Homo sapiens: one gene and its partners. The protein of the gene in region 1 interacts with the protein of each later gene in a pairwise test. Each region holds a gene or a part of one and is shown in the gene's direction. Other genes may lie near its edges. The genes, in order: SLIRP, MTUS2, CCDC102B, AMOT, DMRTB1 and EXOSC8.

Region 1 (3,498 bases):
AAATGCTTGAGGGGATAGATACCCCATGCTCCATGATGTGCTTAATTTACATTGCATGCCTATATCAAAACATCTCATGTACTCCATAATAAATATACATATTTATATATATAAATATATAAATATATACACCTAATAATATATAAATATATATAAATATATACCCAAATAAATATATACACCTACTATACACTCACAAAAATTGTTGAAAAAAAAGCTTAAAGTGTTTTAAAAAATTCTTATCTTGCAACAGGGTCTCGCTCTGTCCCCCTGCAGGGGTGCAGTGGCCTGATCTCACTGCAGCCTCTGCCTCCCAGGCTTAAGTGATCTTCCTGCCTTGGCCTCCTGAGTAGCTGGGACTATAGACATGTGCCACCATGCCCAGCTAACTTTTTTGGTATTTTTTAGTGGAGACAGGGTTTCGCCATACTGTCCAGACTGGAAAATTTTTTTAATTTTCATTTTCTTTAAGAGACAGGGTCTTGTTCTGTCACCCCAGGTGGAGTGCAGTGATGCAGTCATGGCTCACTGCAACCTCTGCCTCCCAGGCTTAGGTGATCCTCCCACCTCAGCCTCCTGAGTAGCTGGGACTACAGGCATGCACCACCACACCTGGGTAATTTTTGTATTTTTTGTAGAGATGGGGTTTCGCCATGTTGCTTATGCTGGTCTCGTCGAACTCCTGGGCTCAAGCTATCCGCACACCTCGGCCTCCCAAAATGTTGAGATTACAGGTGTGAGCCACTGTGCTGGCTTATTTTTGTGGAGATGGGGGTCTTGCCATGTTGCCCAGGCTGATCTTGAACTCCTGGCTTCAAGCAATCCTCCTGCATTGGCCTCCCAAAGTGCTGGGATTACAGGCGTGAGCCACTGTGCCCGGCCTACAGTCTTTATTGATTACATTTTGAGTGATACTTGATTAAAAAGTGAAAAAGCTTTATCATAGGTATTTGTGTTAGTTTTTTTATTGTTGTATAACAAAATACCACAAGCGTAATGGCTCAAAAACAACACATCTCTCACAGCTGAGCACAGTTTAGCTGGGTCCTCTCCTTAGGATCTCACATAGCTATATATTCCAGGTGTCAGCTGGGGCTGTGGTGTGTCTCATCAAAGGGTCAACTGGGGAAAAAGACTGACTTGCAAGCTCCCTCATGTGGTTGGCAAAATTCCTTTTTTTTTTTTTTTGAGATGGAGTCTTTCTCCCTTGCCTAAGCTGGAGTTGCAGTGGTGCAGTCTCAGCTTACTGCAACCTCTGCCTCCTGGGTTCAAGCCATTCTCCTGCCTCAGCCTCCTGAGTAGCTGGGACTACAGGCATGCGCCACCACGACCGGCTAATTTTTTTTTTTTTTTTTTTTTTGAGACGGAGTCTCACTCTGTGGCCTAGGCTGGAGTGCAGTGGCGCGATCTCGGCTCACCACAAGCTCTGCCTCCTGGGTTCACGCCATTCTCCTGCCTCAGCCTCCTGAGTAGCTGGGACTACAGGCGCCCGCCACTACGCCCGGCTAATTTTTTGTATTTTTAGTAGAGATGGAGTTTCGCTATGTTGGCCAGGCTGGTCTCGAACTCCTGACCTCAAGTGACCCGCCCGCCTGGGCTTCCCAAAATGCTGGGATTACAGGTGTGAGCCTTCATGCCCGGCCATAATTCATCTTTAACTGTAGGACTGAGGTCTGTTTTCTTGTTGACCTTTGGCTCTGAGTTGGGAGCTGCTCTCACCTAGGAACTCCCTGCAGTTCCTTGTTACCTAGTTTATCTGTAGGCTGTCTTACAATATGGCAGCTTGCTTCTTTAAAGCCAGCAAGGGCTTCTCCAGTCTGCTTAAGATGGCATCTTATACAGAACATAATCACAGGAGTGACATCCCATTACTTTCGCTGTATTCTTTTGGTTAGAAGCAAGTCAGGTTTCTCCTCCACCCAAGGAGGGGAGGAGATTATATAGGGTGTAACATGGGGAATGCATGGAGATCATGGGGCCCATCTTAGAATTCTGCCTACTACAGTATTCTAATAAGGACTTGAGATTTCTAATAATTGGCAGAGGATATTTTAAGTTTTATCTTCATTGAGTACCATTTTCTTTTTTAGATTTATAACTAATAAAACAATATTTTTATATTAATTACATTTCCTTTGCTTTCTTGTGAGGGTTTAGAAATCAGCCTATAAATTTATCCTGGGCTGTATTTTTCTGTGGGCTTTTTTAGGGTGTGATGTGAGTACATAGAGTTCACACACACTTCACTGAAACCCTTTTTTCCTTGCAGCACTGTAAGGGCTGTGGTAAAATAACAACATAAAGGAACTTAAATTCTTAATTCTTGGTTTAATGTTACTTGACTCCCAAAGACTAACAGATTAGTTATATATAGTGCCGGTGAAGGTGTAGGGAATCTGGCACTCAAGTTGTTGAGAAGTTCAACTGGTACCTTCAGTTCTGTTGTGTAGTTGGCAAAATACCAAAGTTAAGAATTTATATTTGCTTTGATCTAGCGGTTACTTTTCTAAGAATTTATCCTACAGAAATGTGTGGTCAAGAATATTCCAAAGCAGCATTATTTAATGTCAAGTAAGAAGAAGAAACTTAAATGTTCATCACTGGGATTGATTAGATATTAAGTCACTGATGCAATGGAATTTTATATAGTTGAATAGAAAAGTTGGGCACATGTATTATGGACATGAAATATTTTCTGTAAGTTTGAAAACTTCAATTTTTTCAAGAGCATTTAAATAAAAAGTTCCTTGCAAAAAAATGAATAGATTTTTATTGGTCCATAAATAAAATAGGACCTGCAAAGAATAGATCTTAGATTTAAATAAAAGGCGGCTTTGATGTTGGTAAAACAAAATAAAATATGACAAAAAAAATATTTTTTTGTTCCATTCATTGTACTCTAGTTGGAAATCCTGGTTCCTTTTTTGAGACAGGTTCTCTCTCTCACTCAGGCTGGAGTGCAGTGGCACAATCAAGTTCACTGCAGGCTTGAACTCCTGGGTTCAAGGGATCCTTCTGCCTCTGCCTCCTGAGTAGCTGGGATTAGTCGTGTGCCACCACACCTGACTAATTTTTTGTACTCTTTGTAGAAATGGGGCTTCACCATATTGCCCAGGCTGGTCTCGAGCTCCCGCACTCAAGCAGTCTACTCACCTCAGCTCCCAAAGTGCTGTGATTACAGGCATGAGCCACCACACCTGGACTGAGTTATTTTTTTTGAGACAGCCTTGCTCTGTCGCCCAGGCTGGAGTGCAGAGGCGTGATCTCAGCTCACTGCAATCGCTGCCTCCTGGGTTCAAGTGATCCCCCTTCCTCAGTCACCCAGATAGCTGGGACTACAGGCATGGGCCACCACACCCAGCTAATTTTTGTATTTTTAGTAGAGATGGAGTTTCACTATGTTGGCCAGGCTGGTCCCAAACTCCTGACCTCAAGCCATCCATCCACCTCAGCCTCCCAAAGTGCTGGGATTGAGCCACTGCACCTGGCCTATGTTTT
Region 2 (4,109 bases), on another chromosome or scaffold:
TTTCACCCACCAGCCTTTATCGGCAAACATTAACTGAGCATCTGTTACGTGCCTAGCACCAGCTGGATGCTGGGAGTTCAGCATGCAGAGCCTTGGCCTCTGTCCTCCGGAGCTCCCAGTCTAGCAGGCAGACACAGACCCCTAGAGCAGCATTTCCAGCAGGGGAGGACACCTGCCATCGTGGAGGCACAAGCCTGGGGCAGGGAGGCCAGGAGAAGGCACCCCCAGCTTCCTGGCAGTCTCAGGAAGGCCCGCGGCTCTTCACTGCTATTGTGCTGTTGTCATTGTCAATTGCCAGCTGCGCGGCTGTCTCTCCTTTCGGAGCTTCCGGGCAGCATACCCACTCCAGCTCTCCGCTTCCCTCCTTTCAGTCGCTGGCCTTTGCTCTGTCCAGTGGACAGCCAGTGCCTCCCCTGACCGGGCAGAGGGCCTGTGGGATGATGGGTATTGGCCAGAGAGGCTCTGGGAACAGATGTGTCATTGGGCCAAATGGAAATCATGATTCAACCAAAGTTCTTGGTCACTGGGTCACCCTGGTCCCTGTTCTCCCTGCGGTCATCATGGCCTCCTCCCTTTGCCCTGCACCATTGTCCTGACCTCAGGTTCAGTGTCCACTAGCATGATTGCTACTTATTTGTCATTGTGCCCATGCAGACAGCTGTCGGAGGAAAATGCTAACCTCCAGGAATATGTTGAGAAGGAAACCCAGGAGAAGAAGAGATTGAGCCGAACCAATGAAGAGCTGCTTTGGAAGCTCCAAACTGGGGACCCGACCAGTCCGATTAAACTCTCGCCCACATCTCCCGTTTACCGCGGCTCCTCCTCGGGGCCCTCCTCTCCGGCCAGAGTCAGCACAACACCCAGATGACGCCACTACACGGCCTGCGGGAGCTCCGGCTTCTCGTCCTCCGGTCTCCACCCTGAGGGAGCACCGACCCGGTGCCGCCGGAGCTGGCCCTGTGCGCATGCTCAGTAGCTGCGAATGCATCCTAGGCGCGTCCTCCTCTGATCCCCGTGTAAGACTGCCCTGGTGTCGGCACTTAGGAATGTGTAAATGGTAAAGTCTGATGTGCAAACGTTTTACCATAGTTAGAGCCAAAAGAAAGACACTTGCAATTGTTCTTGAGCAATGAACTTTCACTGCAGAATTTCAGGTTAGTTACAAAAAGCTCAGTTTTCAATATACATTGAATAATCATTGTGTACTGCACCGATATGTGTGTATATTTAGATATACGTATATACACATGCTGCGGTTCTGAATTTCATTTTTTATAACATGAAGTGCTGACATATTTTAGTGAAGGTCAGCAGTTTTCTAACTTGTGCCTAAGAATTATTGGGAAATGAAAATGCATTTCTATCTAGCTTCCCAGGAATATTTCTACCCAAAATAGAAAAAGGAAAAAAAAAAAGATACAGAGAAGAAGCGCCTTTCAACTCACCACCAAGTGGTACTCTCTTTAACACGAACACCAGCTATTTGTGAACGGTAACTGCCTTTGGAACAATCAGCTTCTCAGTCAACATGATGTGAGATCACTATTATTCCATTCGCAAGTTTTAATTATTGATACTCCTGTCATGAGCGGATAAGGGAGAGCAGTGGGAAACCCTAAGGGGGTTTAGCAGTTTTGCAGATGTTACCCATGACAGTGACTCATCTCTGATAGTCTTGTAAACACAAGTTTTGCTTTTTTCCTAAATGGCATCTCAGACTCGGTCATTAAGCTATTGTTGCACCCTCCGGAAAACATGGCAGAGCATGACCTTTGAGTAAGAGTGAGGATGACCTTGCAGATGACTGTGCCCATTCGCGCTCCATCCTCATGAAGGAAATTGCTGCCAAGGTCTGTATTTTGACCAGGCACAGAGGGGGAACATCACTCCAGCTTTCCATGTGGTTCACTCTGATGCGATGCTGTAAATGATCAACTCTTTGAAATAGGACCCTCAGGCCCCCATTTCCTAGCAGCCCCCCTTCAGTTTGGTTCTACAACTCAACCCCTTCACTGCACATTGAGATGGCTCAGGGGTTCTAGCAGGGGCTTCCAGAAAAAAAAAACACCATTTCTGTCCCGGGGGACCAGTTCTGAGCTGTGCTAGATCATCACACGACCACCCAGAAACCCACTTGCACTTCCTGCTGGATGATCAGGCAACGCTGCTGCTGACCGTGCTCCCATCTTAGACCCAGAAGGTTCTCCCAAACAGAGGAGCCCAGTGAAACAGCCAGCCAGGGGGCACCAGCTCCTGGACTGGCATCTGTCTCTAAAATGGTAGAATTAGGATATGAACAGTACTCATGTAGTGGTGTGGAAGATTAGGAGCATGATACACAAAAGGAAGAAGTAGTTTTAACAGATATGGTGATGATGATGATGCCCTTGTTTCCTGTATGTGACAAAGACCCTGCACTTTCTCCCTGAGACCCCCCCAAAATTGTCCTGAGCACAGGCCTGTCTTTGAGCGTGCCCAAGGCGAGAAGAACCATGAGGGGGTCCTGCAGGGGCCGGAGCCATGGAACGGGGAAGAAAACAGCCCGCGGACGGGGTCGGCTTGTCCAGGGCACGCCTGCTCGGCACACGTGTTGCCAACGTGAAGGCAGACATGGTCCCTGGCCCTAGGATGAGTCCACGCTGGGCTTCCGGGCCTCAGGTGCATCTCCAGCCAACCTCCAAGGGTCTTGCTCCTTCTGGGGACGTACACAGTAAATCCACATGGAAACACCACCATTTCTCTTTGCTTTAGTGGCTCTGCATGATACTGTGATATTGAGTTGGGCATTCCATTAGAGTAGATCTTGCCACATTGACTAAATACACAAGTATTTATTCTAGTAGCAGGCACAACCTGCAAACACAAATTCAGTTACAGCTTAGCTGTCCGAATTAGGAACCGCTTACATAGCCGCACCTGCTAAATGCAGTTACACAGCAATACTGACTTCCGTGTGATGCTAGAACGTGGTACAGTGTATTAGGCTGCTGTGGTCAGAGTTGTAGCATCGTTAGCACTAAGTAATTCCTCATTAGGTGGACTTCGGTGAGAGCTTTGCCCTAACCTGCCCTGACCTTGGGTACTTGAGCTAATTTCCACGTGGCCCTGGCTTCGTGGTTTGTTTGTTTTTTTTCTTTTGTTACGGACACCCATCATGTATGGCTCCTCATCTGAGCCATCACCGCTCCCGAAACACATGGGGCGGCAGCTGCTGTGCCTCCTTCTCAATTCTTCCACCCCCCCACACCATCAGAATTCGGATTTCTCTCCACGTGGCGTCTGCCTCTGTCCCCTTCCAGGCTGGAGCGACGTTTCCACGTTCGGATGCTGCAGCCTCTGCACCTGCCTCAGACAGACCCACCAGATACCACCTGTCTCTTCGTGGCATTTGGGAGATGCGTGGGCGGCCTGCCCCCCGACCGCCGCCCCTGCCCACCACATGCTGGGACAAGGTTCTGGCTGGATGTCAGAATGGATGGGGGTGGGGGCAGCCCTGGCCGTGATTAGTTGAATGAATGGGGTCACAACATCCCTTTTCCTGCCCCTACAGTTTGTGTTGCATATTTGTGTTTAAAGCCTATTAAAATAAACTTGAGGGACTTTCTGCGATATCTACTTGATGTAACTGGAGACCTGTCCCTCTCAGGCTGGGGATCCCAGGCAGGGAGGCAAGGGGGGTGGCGTTTGCAGGCTGGACCCCTTTTCTGTGTGTGCCGGGGTTGGGTGATGGTCCGTGAGAGAAGTCTTGTAGAGACCCCCTCTCCCCTGACTCCGCAGGTCCCAGGTCCCTGCGCCCACCCCTCCAGCCTGGGGGCTTGAGCAGCCCCTCCCCTGGACTTGGGAGCTCAGTGCCTCTGCTCTGCAAGGCCGGGTGCGCTGGAGTTGGCTGGAAGGAGGACATAAAAGGTCATTCACTCATTTCAACCTGAAAGTGCTTGCTCCCCCCATCCCGATGGCCTTCAGTTTGGGCTGCAGCCGGTTTAGCCAGCTGGACCTCGAAGTGTCCCACAGGTGTCTGGCACCATCACAAGGGAGACAGCTGGGTTCGCAGGTTCCCTGTGGTGGTTTTGCAGGGTCTGTGGGAGTGGCAGCTATTTCAGCGAGATCAG
Region 3 (3,500 bases), on another chromosome or scaffold:
AATTTTTATCCTTTTGAGATATTTTTAAAATGCCTCATACTCTAATCATCCTAAATAGTTTGCAAGGAATTTTGAGTAGTTGACCCTCTTCTGTCCCTACAATACCACAAATATGGTATTTGTGCTATTGTATTTATGGTATTATATGTATGGTATCATACTAATTTTACTAGTAAGAAAACTTAATAAGATAATAAATTTCTTGTCCAGAATTAGACAATGAGTAAATGGTGGGACCAGGATGAGATTCTAATAGATTTTCTACTGTAAAGAGTTACTCTGCTGTATAGATTTATGCAATAAATTACATTGATGTCTCGATATCCATATGCCTAAATATATGAGAGAAACATACATTTAAAAAATTTATATTACCACAGTGTTTCTCCTTTAAGTGTTACATTGCTAGACAAAGTGCTTTCTAATTACTTTGATTAATTTCACTTCTCACAAACCTTGTCAGATTAAATAAGTTGTCTACATTGGGGTAGATGAAGTTACCTGACTAAGCTTATCCAGAGAATAAATGGTGAAGTCACATTAGAATGCATAGCTCAGGACTATAATTTAGAGACAAAAAAGCTACTATTCACTTCTACTTACAATGTCCACAGAAAAATTATAGCAGACGAATATAATTTCATCTCATAATAATAAGCACTTAGATGTAATAAAACTGCAGAAAATAAATACATTTGATATTGCCTCTTTAAAACTTAAAGACATTAAAATAACAAAAACCAAAGGAGATATTAAAATTATCTTAAATCAGAATTTCTAGAGTAGGCTTCTGGTCATTGATAGTAATAAAAATCTCCTCATGTTGATATACCATGCAGCCTTGGTTGAGAACCATGGGAAGAGGGCAGAGGTTGACAAAACTTTAGTGTAAAGGACCACAAAGTAACTATTTTGGGCTTTACTACCTATATGGTCTCTCTCTCAACAGCTTAACTTACCCATTGTGTGTGAAGGCAGTTATAGGCAAAGTGTGAAGAAATGAGCGTGGCCATGTCCCAATACGATTTTATTTGTGGTATAGTTTGAATTTTATATAATTTAATGTTGAAAATGTTTTAATGTAAAATTTTAAAATATAAAATGATAAATTATATATATTTTTTCAATATAAAATTAAATTACTTTTTGCATTACTTTTTGGCAACTGCAAATGTTGCATAGATAGAGAGATAGAGAGATAGAGATAGAGAGATCCATATAGCATCTGTCTATTCCCTAGATAATTGAGTGAATGAATAAATGAAATATATCCAATCAAAATTGCCCATGAAATGATATTGTGTCTTCTCCACTGAGAATGTTTATCAGTTGAGAGTGGAGATTAATGTTCCCAAGAGCAGCAGTTCTTCACTTGACACATATATTTGAAAAATATGGTACATATGGCTGTAGAGATAGTTACATGAACCAAGAGGAAAAGTATATTTATCTACGGTTTGGCCTGATCTTAGGATTTTTGTATTTTTCTCATGTTTTCAAACAAATAGAATTTTCTTTTTAAAATTGTATCAGTGGACATATCCATGAACTTTTCTTAATGGGAGTCTGGTTGTGGGTGGCATTATCTTTTGGCAATTGCAAATGCTGCATGCTGCTTCTTTGTGTTTTCTGTGTGTAGCTAGAGAGATTGCAAGCTGAAAATACCTCGGAGTGGGACAAGAGGGAAATACTTGAAAGAGAAAAGCAGGGACTGGAGAGAGAAAATAGAAGGCTGAAGATCCAGGTGAAAGAAATGGAAGAGCTTTTGGATAAGAAAAATAGATTAAGTGCAAACTCTCAAAGTCCTGATTTCAAGATGTCACAAATTGATCTGCAAGAAAAAAACCAGGTATGGGTGCTCCTTGGAGCAAATTCTCACTGTCTAATCTCACTCTGATGCCTACGCAGAGTCTGTCTTCACTCGTACACGCCTCCACATTTGGATATTTCCTTTTGTGCCAGCTAATACCTGATACTCCTTGCTCTTTTGCCCACTAGGATGTAAAATAACGTTCATGCATCTGAAACAAAGTGTGTCAAATGTTAAAATATGACAAATCTTCAGACAGTTTCAAGATTTCCAAAAGGAAGAAGAAAAATGAAGTAAGAAATAGAACTTTCTGGTTTTTTGTTTCTTATTAAAGCTTTGTCTCAGTATTTTCTAAGCTAATGATCTTATTTCCAATAAAGATTTTTTCATTAATTCAAGCGACTATACAATAAGCATTTGCTGGTAGCTATGGTAAGTATCTGCATAAACATTTAAATTTAGCTGAAACTCACTGCTTTCTGGTTCTTTTTTGTCAGTTTCAGAACGATTATTTTTGAGCTAATGAAATGCATAATTTTTCAAATAATTTTTCCAGCCTGTGGTATAAATCTTAAAACCAGGATAACATTCAGAATTTAAATTTGGGAAATTTAATTTTGGATGTGTTTTATCCCCAAGCCAGTAGATATAGTTTATGCTATAGACGGACATTTTTTTGATAGTTTACAGATTTTTAAATGTGCTTTTAATGGCAGTCTTATAGTTTTAATGTGGGTTCGTGTCAATGTGCTGTAAATTATATTTACCTTGTTTCTATTTTTCAATTATATATAGCATCTTAATGCACAATTCTATTTCTCACTCAGTTTCTTTAACAGTTTTAAAAGGTGAATTTGATAAGTTCATAGTTTTGAGATATTTAAGTCATTCATACTCACATAAGCTCTAAAACCTAAATGGCCAGAAAAATTGAATTCCATATTATTTCATCATTCTTTCATGAATCTAGGGATTTATTGCAAATGCAAGATTAAATTGTATTAGTGTTTCATGACCTAGCAATGCAAATATCTAAAGTTAAATGTTATAGTCCGTGACCATAATTTTCTATTATATTGATTCATAAACTATCCATAATAATGTATTTGATTCTGACATATGTACACTGATAAATCTGTAGACATCTTATTTTGGAGATCTCTACTCTAAAAAGTGCAGAATTATCTCAATTATGGACTGTGGTTTGATTATAGAAATACTTTTTATTTGATTTATTCAAACAAGACAAACATTTATTCGTATTATTCTCTGTGTCAGTCACTGTTCTATATGCAGGTAATGAGAATATTAATCAATGAATCATTATCCCCACCCAGCATGGGCTTAGAGTCTATATAGGGAGTCAAACACACAAATTTTTATAAATAAAACATTATAGTGATTGCTAAGAATAAAGTGGAAGGGGACACAGATTAAGAAGCAATTGATTATATTTGATTTTGGCACCTTTCTAGTTGTATCAAAATGTATTAATATAAAGTATATCTTTCGGGAAAAATTGAGACCTGTTTGGAGCTGGCATTGGCGTAACCTGTCATCAGGGCACACCGAGTCCAGACCTGGTCTCTTTGACAATGTAGTTATTTGGGCTGGGACTAAGCAGAACTTGGAAACTGAGAGGATCCTCAAAGGTCTAAGTCAGTGGGTATGCTGATCACTTAGAAGACTG
Region 4 (3,500 bases), on another chromosome or scaffold:
ATTGTTTGAATTTATACGAATACTGGGACTGTTAACAGGTGGCTATACATCGACGTTTTCAATGTGCTTAAATTTGTTTAAATTTTCCATATTCTAGATCATTTTTTATTGAAGAGCACAGTATGTGTGGAAGACAGTGTATAACACGTAGTTTGGAAGTGGGAAGCTAGAGAGAATTGAGTGTGTGCTGTTTTGTATAGTTACTATCCTGTGCAGCAGCTGGAGAAAGCACTCACCTCAGGCTTACAAAAGGGAATAGTTTCAGGAGCTATGTAAGCTGGAAAAAAGGTAGGGAGTTTTGGGGTGCAGAAGGGTACTGGAGCTAATTTTTTCTTCCAGTTTCCCAGCTACCCTGCCCCAGGGAATTGTGTTTGTCTTCATTTCAGTGGTGCTTTGGAAATGGATTCTTTTGGTTCCCTCCTGGAGGTTCATACATTCATATATATGCTCTGGAGTAATTTATGCATTTGGATAATTAATATATTGCTTTCAGATGCTGGGAGAGTACATTAACTGAGTGATGCGCAACTTCCTCTCTCTTAGGGAATTAGACCATCAGAGGCCTTGATGGAGAGTTGCATGGGGTGCTATATGCAGACTTCCATGGTTTGTGTGTAGCCATGAACACAGCTTGCTTGCATTTAGTAAGACCAATCAGCTTAGTGTTTATTTCTTCTACAGCACAGATTCACTGGCTGGGTCTCCAGTCTCAAATTGCCAATCATTTGCAAAGTGAGGAAGGATCTTTGTTGACAGGTTGAATGCTTTGAATTTCTGGTGACTACTTTGAAATAACTTGTTTTGTTTGTCAAATTCTAAGCATATGTCTTAAAAGGCATTTTTGACTATCACCTCCAAGGGAATAGCTTGAGAAACCCAAAGTACTATGCTGCAGTCGGGGGAGAGGTGGATTGCAGCAGTATCCTCAACTACCTCTTCTCACTGTCAGTGACACCATCTTGGAATACCTTTGGGAAGCAGCAGGAAATGTGCATGTGGGTAGAGATCAAAGGAGGCAATGGCTCCAAGCCTTGCCATAGGGCTGCCTCCAAGGACACAGAAGGATGCCAGTTGCCACAGGTCCCTGCCCTGTGTCACCTGTCTGCCCTTCATTAAGGTGAGAAATCTGCAGATAGCATCATTAAGATCAGTTTTAAGGGGTATAGGGAGGGTGAGGGAAGTGGGGGGTGTTAGGTAAGGGTTGGGGGTAGAGGTTTTGGGATGTCTTAGTTAGAAACCAGATTAATAGAAGAGTAGGCCTGATATATTACATCATGAGCCATAGTGGTGGGAAAGAACTTTAGCAATATAGCCCTACCTCCTCATTTTAGTGATGAGGAATCTGAGAACTGGAGAGGTTCAGTGACTTTTTGAAAGTCATACAACACAGCTAACCATTATGCCAATCACCATGCTTATTTTGGGAAACTCTTTATCTTTTTTAAATTCCATTTTATGAAAAGGCATCTTCATGGTCCAGGGAATATGTATCTTGTAAAATGTACCTGGTTGGAGTAGCTTGTCCAGTCTTGACAAACTACTGAATTTCTGTCTTGCCTCTCCTTCAGTGCCTTTTAAAAGGTTTTCCCTTTTCTGATCTGCATTTCAACATAGAGTCACATAAATGTCCCCCTGAGAAACCAATCCCACTTCTTTCTAGGAGATTGGGTATCTTAGATAATCTTTTGGGGTTCCTCTGTGAGTATAGGAATGGTATCCTTCCTAATTATCTTCCAAAGGAATTATTTTGTGTGTGTGCCTGTGTGTGTGTAGAGACATAAAGGAGGGTGATGTGATTTTCAGCTAGTCCTTTCACATTTTCAATAATGAGGTAATCATGTTACATACACATTAGTCCTCAGTTATAAAGTGAATCTCAGATAGAAATTAAAAGTGCAGTTGTGTTAAGACTCTTTCATACTACCCTTTAGTCATAAGGAGAAAAAAACACTCAAATAGTAGAAGCAGCAAGTAGCAAACTTCAGGAGAGCTACTTTCTATCCAAATAATTTAAAAAACACTTTTCACCTACTCCTTTCATGGTTATAACACATTGGCAGACTTTTTGCTGGCTCTGGGAGCCATGATTTTAATCACATTCTGCAAGGTGACAAATGTCATACATTCCACATTGTGTGGTAGCCATCTCTTTAGACTCATGTGTTTTGGGGAAAGGAAGAAGTTCTTGGCTGAGTACTATTTTGAACTTTCCAGAACCCTCTCACACCAGAGACAGTTCTTCTCTGTTCAGTTTCCAATCCCCGATAATTTGCTAAAATAACATTGTACATCCAAGAGAGGGAAGAAGAGTATGTCAGTATATTATGCAGAAGATAGATACAGCCTTTTCAGAAGATCTCCACTAGTTTTTGTTCCAAAAATTCAAGTTTATGGGAGAAATCTCAATTAGCCACCTTTTCACAGTTGTGTGGATATAACATTTGGGGGATCTTTCTGGACTCCTACCTATCTGTGCATTTTACCGGCACCTCAGGAAAGGAGGGTGACCAGGTTGTCTTAGCTTGTACTGCTTGGTGATCTCTGAGGACCTTCTAATTCAGTTGTACCCCAGTGTTCCATGTATAGAAAAACTTCATTAGAACAAACTTTACTTGATATGAAACTCCTATTAACAGTCTTTTTTTGAAATAAAAAGTAGCTTGAGCTTTCTTTTAAAATCATGTATCTTGATTGTTGATTTAATGAAGGATTTCCTTTTAATGCTGCTTTTGAGCTTCAAGGTAATAGGACAGCAGGAACCTAAAATATCTGCCATCATCTGCCATAGGAAAGATACCCAGAGACCCATCATGTTCTCTTTTTGTTGTTACACTGTTGGGTGGGTATAACAATTGGAAAATGAACAAACTGATTGATTGTGCAAACTACTTTTTATGACAAGCCTAAACCCTCATAATGCGGCAGCTTAAAGTGTATACATATGCACTAACTTTGATCAATTATATTCTCATATCTGTTAGCTACACAGTCTCCTATTATCTCAATTGCTTATGTGCATATGGAATATGTTACTTAAAACGTGTGCATTCTTACTGAAAATGTTTTCAAAGGAAGGTATCAGCTGTGGGCTAATTGCCACCAATTTCAGCCTGCCACGATTCTTGGAAATATGTCTTCCAAGTGCCATCCATCATCAGTAGGACAAGTGTCGGGAGTTTGTTTATTTTTTTCCAGTAGCAACGATGGGTTACATGGAGCCATGAAACCTCCTTCTGGCCTCCCTTGTGATTAATGGCATGTGTTTGTAAAATGGATAGCTGGGGTTGGCAGATGGCTAGAGAAGAATCGCCTTTGGTTTAAAATGTATGTGGTCCCCTAATGATTGTGACCCCATTCTGTAATCAACTGAGCTAGTTCCAATAAAGTTAAGCAGGTTTAAATCCACTTTGTGCCTATCTTTTCACTGACAATAAAGTTAGCTATTTTAAAATGCAGTACCGTGTGGAAAATGCTTTGGTGTTTACCCGACAGAGGCTTTA
Region 5 (4,232 bases), on another chromosome or scaffold:
TGTTAGTGGCCCATTTTTTCCTTTTTTTGGACAAAGAAGGGAGGAGAGGGGAGGGGAGGGAAATGGAGGCAGTGGGGTGGTGGGGGGGAGGGGCGGGAGAGAGAGACAGAGAGAGAGAGAGAGAGAGAGAGAGAGAGAGAGAGATGCCTCAGGGTGTCACAAATTTGTTTTTAAAAAATGAATTAATGGCCGGACGCGGTGGCTCACGCCCGTAATCCCAGCACATTGGGAGGCCGAGGCCGGTGGATCACCTGAGATCGGGAGTTCAAGACCAGCCTGGCCAACATGGCGAAAACCCCGTCTCTACTAAAAATACAAAAATTAGCTGGGCATGGTGGCGGGCGCCTGTAATCCAAGCTACTCAGGAGGCTGAGGCAGGAGAATCGCTTGAACCTGGGAGGCGGAGGTTGCAGTGAGCCAAGATCCTGCCACTGCACTACAGCCTGGGTGACAAAGCAAGACTCTGTCTCAAAAAAAAAAAAAAAAACAAAAAAAAACAATTAATGCCCTCGGGTAAACTATGACGTTTGTGCTAACTTTTCAGATGTCCCAAGATTTGGGTTGTTTTACAAGGATAACGAAGTTCATGATGAGGTTAAGCAATCACTGAAGCTAGTGCTAGAAATTTTTTTTAATTTAATTTTTTAGAAAGAGGGGTCTTGCAGAATTTTTTATTTAATTTTTTAGAAAGAGGAGTCTCGCTATGTTGCTCAGGTTGGTCTCCAACTACTGGGCTCAAGTGATCCTCACGAGTAGCTAGGGCTACAGGCACAGGACACTATGCCAGGCTTAGTGCTACAATATTCTGTCTATTTTACTTTAAAATATTCTAAGTATGCTCACTTTGGAAGGCATCAACATCCAGAAATGCATTCCTACATCAAGACTCTCAAGAAACGGGAATTACTGTAAGGGCATACCCTTGAGCAACCATCACACTGCACTGAACTCTTGAGAATATTCTGGAATATCCTGGAAGCATCTCTGCAGGGCAGAGAAGTGAACTGCCACAGAAGGAGCAGCTTTGGGGAGAAGAAATACAGTTTGCCTCTTACAGTATTTTTCTACACCGAGAGCTACATTCCTCCCGAGTTTTAAATTTGTGGACCGTTGAATATCACTCCGCCTTTCATAAAGTTACAAATACCTTCCGTCGGTGGCGGGAACAGAGTTTGGAAAATTACATGCCTAAGACTTCAGATAAGCTAAATGACATACATGCAATAGCATCCCATGAAGAATTTATTCAACCCAATCCATTGCATCTAATTACCCAAAGCACAGAAACTCTCCAAACTGTGCACCCCCCAAAAGGAGGGAAAATGCAAGGTTCCTGCTGCAGTTCCCGGGACACACTGCGAGCCGCTTTGTTACAAGTGTATCCAATGTCCCCAGAACGAGGGACTTGTGGGGCGCGGCTCATCCCAGCGCCACTTGCTCTGCAGCTCCCAGAGGTGGTGGTTGTGTTACGAAGGCTGACCCTGCCAATGGCCGACAAAATGGTGCGCACCCCCAAGTGCTCGAGATGCAGGAACCATGGCTTCCTGGTGCCCGTCAAGGGACACGCGGGCAAATGCCGCTGGAAGCAGTGCCTCTGCGAGAAGTGCTACCTGATCTCCGAGCGCCAGAAGATCATGGCCGCGCAGAAGGTGCTCAAGACGCAGGCCGCCGAGGAGGAGCAGGAGGCGGCCCTGTGTGCGCAGGGGCCCAAGCAGGCCTCCGGGGCTGCGGCCGCCGCCCCCGCCCCCGTCCCCGTCCCGGCCGCGAGCCTCCGCCCGCTGTCCCCGGGGACTCCCTCCGGAGACGCCGACCCGGGACCCGAGGGCCGCGCGGCCGCTTGCTTCTTCGAGCAGCCCCCGCGGGGCCGGAACCCCGGCCCGAGAGCCCTCCAGCCGGTTCTGGGCGGCCGCAGCCACGTGGAGCCGAGCGAGCGAGCCGCCGTGGCGATGCCCAGCCTTGCGGGACCCCCTTTTGGGGCGGAGGCCGCAGGCAGTGGCTACCCTGGCCCCCTAGACCTGCGCAGGCCGATGCGGACCGTGCCCGGCCCACTGTTCACCGACTTTGGTAAGTCGTGGCCTTGGTCCCGCGGTCGACTCCCGGAGCTGGCAGCCCAGGCCAGCCCGGATGGGGAGCTGGCATAGGGGTTCGGGGTGGAGAGAAGTTTTTCCACGGGTAACGGACCTTCCGCTTTGAGAAACCCTTCTTCGAACAGGGATTTGGATTGGGTAACTTTTCGCAAAAAGGAAACGAGAAACAGAAAGGAATGGGCGGTTCAGAGGGCTTTTAACATTTAGCTGTAGTTTGTGCCATTCCGGCATGCAAGAACAAAATGGCGTCCAGTCGACTTAGCAGTGCTTCCTCCTCCGGGGGAGGCTTCGAGGAGCCGAGTCCTACTGCTCTTGCGCACCTCTTCCCGCCATTTCCTTGGGCTGGAGGCTCCTCCTCCAGAATAACAGAATTTTCCTGCCGGCACGTTAGCGCAAGGACGCCTGCGCACTCTTCCCTCCCGGTTCGCGGTCGGGAGGCTCCTCCCCTCAGCTCCGCCCTGGCCCAGTGCGCCTGCGCACCTCTTCCCTCCGTTTCCCCACGTGCAGGTGAGGGGAGCCTGCTTCTTTACTCCACACACGAGAACAGTTGGTCAGTAAAGATGTTGCCTTTCTTTTCTCCCTTCACCTTGTACATAAATTACATTGTTCCCTGTGCCTTGGAGCTTTTGGTATTGAAGTAGTTTCAAGTCACATGTACATTTGAAGCTTTAGAAGCCCCGGGGTTTGGTGCGGACGCGTTTTCCTGGTGTCTCCCCCGTGGTGGTGTGGTGGGACGGGCTCAGGCCGAGGCGGGGGCCCGGGTCACGCTGGACAAGCTCCTGCCCTCTGTGTGCCAGGGCACTGGTCCGGAGGCTCCCGCAGGCTCGTCCCGCCCCCCTGACTTTCCAGGAAAATCTAGGTCCCCAGGGAACGTCCCATCTGACAGGGTCACAGGCCTGAAACTGCAGATCTAGGAGAAGCCACCTTTCTTTTTTCCATCTCAACAGACAAGCAGGGCTGAGCCGAACCATGAGCCAGGCATTCGTGATGGAGGACGCGGGTCACATTTCTTGCCCTCAAGGACCTTGTCCTTGTGGGAGGGACAGGGTTGATCAAAGAGTCACACAAATCAGTGTCCAGGGCTTGAGCCATGGCCGGGTTCACTGTGACCCGGAGGAGGAGGAGGAGCTCGGCACTGAGGCCTCAGAGAGGCAGAGTGCGGGCTGACGGTGTGTGGGGCAGCGGGGAGGTCTGGAGGCGGCCCCGGCCCACAGCGGGCTTGATGGCCGTGCTGAGGACTTTCCAAGAGCAGTGGGGCTGGCTGGAGGATGGAGATGCAGTGAGGGCCCAGCGGAAGGAAGTGCGGGGTGGGCTTTCTGTGCTTGGACGGCAGCGCTGATGACCCCGCCGCCCTGGGCCGCCCTGCGGATGCTTTTCCCAGCGGTGTCTAACACTTCCCTCCTTGCTTGCGTTCTTTAGTGCGCCCTCTGAACATCAACCCGGACCGTGCACTGGGCCCTGAGTACCCTGGTGGCTCCAGCATGCACCCCTACTGCCCGTTCCCGCTGGGCTACCTGGACGCCCCTCCTGGCGTCCCCCTGCAGCAGGGCTTCCGGCATGTGTCCCGCAGCCAGTACCAAGGCGGAGGCTTGGTGAGTCCCACCCCTCACTTCTTGCCAGCTTCCTCCACCCAGTCTGCCCCTGCTGCCTTGATGGATCCTCAGTCCCAGGAAGCCAGCTGTCATAAACTGTGCCCACGCCATGCCAGCCCCCGAGTGCTGGTGGAGGACTAGGCACTGCCCAGGCACAGTGTGTGTGTCTCTGGGAGCACACGTGTGGACCAGTCTGCACCACTCGGCTTGGGCTATGGCCTGTGCTTTTCAGGGCAGTGGGCTGAAAGGCTCTGAGCGTTCAGGATGACCCCTTCCTTGACTGATGCTGATGCTAGAAGGGCCCTTCATTTTGCTGGACTCCAGAAAGGGCATATCACCTTCCTGGGACCACAAAATTTAGGGCAGAGCCAGGACCAGAGGTAGGCTCCCTGCCCACAGGTATAGCACACTTGAGACTGCAGAGGGCTTTCAGGAGGAGGTGGCATTTGAGCGGAGTCATGAAAAATACGGAAACCTTCCCCCAAACACTTGACACCTTAGGAAATACCTGTTGAAAGAATGAAATTTAATCCTTTTATAAGATTAATAAAGG
Region 6 (3,165 bases), on another chromosome or scaffold:
CCTTTTGTGTTTAATTCTATTTTAGCTTGTCTGGGTTCTATACTGTGATCTCATTTGCCTCGACTACGATGGAAACATTTTGGATGCCTGCACATTTGCTTTGCTAGCGGCTTTAAAAAATGGTAAGCAGCCTTACAAAAAAGGCAATATTCCCACTCATGGGTTAGAATGTTGTTTTGTGAAACTTTTAATGTACATTTGCTTTCGTATGCTTCCAAATTAATGAATGTAATGCTGACATGACTTTCCAAATATAGTTGATAGTTGTATATTCTCTAACTGAATGCTCTTTAGAGTGCTGCTTTGACTGTACCCATCTACTTAAGTTAGGACTTCAGTCCTTTCCAAAATAGTGTTAATATTGGTGGGAGAAGGAGACAAGAGTTGTAACTTCTGGCTAGGTGATTGGTGAAGATCTGCCAGTATCCTCATAGTTCTTTATGTGATATTGCCAAAAGAAGTAGAATGGATTCTGTTGTTTTTACTGTGAGGCCATAGTAATAGGGAAGTTTCTTAGCAAGGAGTCTAGGTTGACTGATTAGTTACAGATTTCAATAACTTGTGCATATTCCCTATCATTGATGAATGATGAATTGGTAGGAACAAATAATTGGAGGTGGAATATAAAGTTAGCACAGCAATATTATAGTAGAGTGGTTAAGTGAATTGGAGGTAGAAAATGAAGTCAGCAAAATATTATAATAGACTGGTTAAAGTAGATTCCTGGCTCTCTCACTCTGTGCTGAAGTTTCCTTATCTATAATAAAATAGGGATAATAGTACTTACTTTGTAAGAGTATTGATTAGGTGAATACAATGAAAATATGAAAATGCTTAAAACAGTACCTGGCAGATATAAATTTAAAAAAAAATCATTGACTTCTTAAACTTAAAAAAAAATTATGCAATAAGCACTAGGTAGGAATGTCAGATGTTGTGAAAAGCAATGTATATCCTCTATATTTACCTTAGTGGCTGTAAGGTGCTTTTTAAAAAGAAATGTTCTGGGCAAGTTAAATAGAGGGAAAGGTGAATTAAAAAAAAAAAAGCTTAGAAATCATTTGTTTCTTAGAGACTTACTTACTTTACAAATTTGCCTTTTCTTAGTACAGTTGCCTGAAGTTACTATAAATGAAGAAACTGCTTTAGCAGAAGTTAATTTAAAGAAGAAAAGTTATTTGAATATTAGAACTCATCCAGTTGCAACTTCCTTTGCTGTGTTTGATGAGTAAGTTAATCAAACTTACTTTAAAATTTTCTATATTTAAGATTAGGGTAATTGATGTTCAGCATTCTAACTCTTTAGGAAGTGCTATGGTGACCCTACATCCTAGTTTTCCCTGGACACTTGAGTTTCTACTTGTCCCTGCACAATTATTTCTAGTCACTGCACAATTATTACCTGTTCCTTGGTTTACTTATACCTGTGTAATGTTAATTTCCAATTCTTTCACTATAAGATTTATCTGAAGCTATCTTCAATATTTTCCAAGGATTTTAGCACGTTCAGAAATAGAAGAGCAGGGCCGGGCATGGTGGCTCATGCCTGTAATCCCAGCACTTTGGGAGGCTGAGGCAGGGGATCACCTGAGGTCAAGAATTCAAGACCAGCCTGGCCAACATGTTGAAACCCTGTCTCTACTAAAAACACAAAAATTAGCTGGGTGTGATGGCGTGTGCCTGTTAATTCCAGCTACTTGGGAGGCTGATAGTATGTTTAGTATTTTAAAGTAAAATTTGTTCCATGGATTGATAACTTATATTTTTTTCTTTTTATAGCACTTTGCTTATAGTTGACCCTACTGGAGAGGAGGAACATCTGGCAACAGGAACCTTAACAATAGTAATGGATGAGGAAGGCAAACTCTGTTGTCTTCACAAACCAGGCATGTTCCCGCCACTTCAGTCCTAAACATATGTAGATGAAAACTCAGTGTGAGCCTTAAATTAGGGAGGGCCAAATAGAATATGGGATATTTTATTTACCTAATTTTAGTATAGTTTCTTAGCTACCTAAAATGTTCTTCCATCTTAATGGTATATGTCAGTGGTTCTTAAACTTAAGACATACATTAGAATCACTTGGAGGTCTTGTGAAACTAACTTGTAGATCTTGAGACTGTACCCTGATTTACATTATCCAATTTTTTTGTTTTATAATTTGACATGACATTAATGTTTTTTGAAAAGGAATGATAACTGAGATTAAAAGTATTGGCAAAATAATTTTTCAGGTGGAAGTGGGCTAACTGGAGCTAAACTTCAGGACTGTATGAGCCGAGCAGTTACAAGACACAAAGAAGTTAAAAAACTGATGGATGAAGTAATTAAGAGTATGAAACCCAAATAAACAGCCACCACATTTTCAAAACAGATTTGTAAAAATTGTATTTGTTAACACTGTGCACAAACGTTTTATACTAAATAAATATCAAACTACATTCTTCTGAAAGATGTTTCTATTATTTCTTAGGTCACTTCCATATATATTATGTATAGTGAAACCATTTTTAAAAAGCAATGACTTAGGCAAACCAACCCTAGTTTGTTAAACCATTTCCCTGTTTTTATTTAAAAATGATAAGGTTGTGCTTCTGTATAAAGTTTGTACATCTAGCAATGTAAAATACTGACACATTAAAAAAAACAAAAAGTAGAAACTCAATTCTTTTGATTCAGTGCTCTTGTGTTTTTAAAAAAGGAACAAAAAGTAATGCAAGACTCAAAATTTTGGAGTGGTTGGCGTGCCTCTCTTCATTTTACTTTTTGACTGGCTGCCTGTATGCCGATGATGATGTAGCTGAGCTGTTTGTGCTGCTGCTGCTGCCATAGCCATTTGATGCTGCAAGAATCGCAACTGCTGCAAAAGGGAGGGAAAAAAATCGAGTTATGTTAAATGCAGGCAGGTGTAGAAAGGTGCTTTTCCTGAGTGACGAAACAACACAACTGAAAAAGGGAGAAAGCACCAAGATAACAAAAAGGGACTATACCACATTGAGACAATGCACAGTCAAACAGCACCAGTGGCACAGAAGCCTGCTAAGGGCTTTAAAAATGATTCTTGGCAAACTTCAAAATTATTTGTTACTTTGCCCTGCCAGTCTATATTGTAGTAACTCAGCAACTTCAGTTACCATTTTGTTGTATAATGATGGTTTATAGCAA

What was found.
Region 2: the proteins of SLIRP (region 1) and MTUS2 interact in binary tests that used the Homo sapiens proteins (3 or more experiments, as listed by UniProt).
Region 3: the proteins of SLIRP (region 1) and CCDC102B interact in binary tests that used the Homo sapiens proteins (3 or more experiments, as listed by UniProt).
Region 4: the proteins of SLIRP (region 1) and AMOT interact in a two-hybrid assay, tested with the Homo sapiens proteins (one large-scale study listed by BioGRID).
Region 5: the proteins of SLIRP (region 1) and DMRTB1 interact in a two-hybrid assay, tested with the Homo sapiens proteins (one large-scale study listed by BioGRID).
Region 6: the proteins of SLIRP (region 1) and EXOSC8 interact in a two-hybrid assay, tested with the Homo sapiens proteins (one large-scale study listed by BioGRID).

The regions. Positions count from the first base shown.
Region 1 is NC_000014.9:77,711,103-77,714,600, forward strand, and holds part of SLIRP (SRA stem-loop-interacting RNA-binding protein, mitochondrial isoform 1 precursor), read left to right. Parts: intron 1-3,498. UniProt on the Homo sapiens protein: RNA-binding protein that acts as a nuclear receptor corepressor. Probably acts by binding the SRA RNA, and repressing the SRA-mediated nuclear receptor coactivation. Binds the STR7 loop of SRA RNA.
Region 2 is NC_000013.11:29,502,339-29,506,447, forward strand, and holds the end of MTUS2 (microtubule-associated tumor suppressor candidate 2), read left to right. Parts: intron 1-654; coding exon 655-868; 3' UTR 869-3,609; downstream 3,610-4,109. UniProt on the Homo sapiens protein: Binds microtubules. Together with MAPRE1 may target the microtubule depolymerase KIF2C to the plus-end of microtubules. May regulate the dynamics of microtubules at their growing distal tip.
Region 3 is NC_000018.10:68,895,580-68,899,079, forward strand, and holds part of CCDC102B (coiled-coil domain-containing protein 102B), read left to right. Parts: intron 1-1,639; coding exon 1,640-1,849; intron 1,850-3,500. UniProt on the Homo sapiens protein: During interphase, forms fibers at the proximal ends of centrioles to maintain centrosome cohesion. During mitosis, dissociates from the centrosome following phosphorylation to allow centrosome separation. Contributes to CROCC/rootletin filament formation.
Region 4 is NC_000023.11:112,774,832-112,778,331, reverse strand, and holds the end of AMOT (angiomotin), read left to right. Parts: 3' UTR 1-3,455; downstream 3,456-3,500.
Region 5 is NC_000001.11:53,457,967-53,462,198, forward strand, and holds the start of DMRTB1 (doublesex- and mab-3-related transcription factor B1), read left to right. Parts: upstream 1-1,432; 5' UTR 1,433-1,487; coding exon 1,488-2,064; intron 2,065-3,506; coding exon 3,507-3,679; intron 3,680-4,232.
Region 6 is NC_000013.11:37,006,950-37,010,114, forward strand, and holds the end of EXOSC8 (exosome complex component RRP43), read left to right. Parts: intron 1-25; coding exon 26-122; intron 123-1,107; coding exon 1,108-1,228; intron 1,229-1,779; coding exon 1,780-1,886; intron 1,887-2,234; coding exon 2,235-2,350; 3' UTR 2,351-2,665; downstream 2,666-3,165. Other genes in the region: SUPT20H (transcription factor SPT20 homolog), read right to left, coding at 2,723-2,860. UniProt on the Homo sapiens protein: Non-catalytic component of the RNA exosome complex which has 3'->5' exoribonuclease activity and participates in a multitude of cellular RNA processing and degradation events.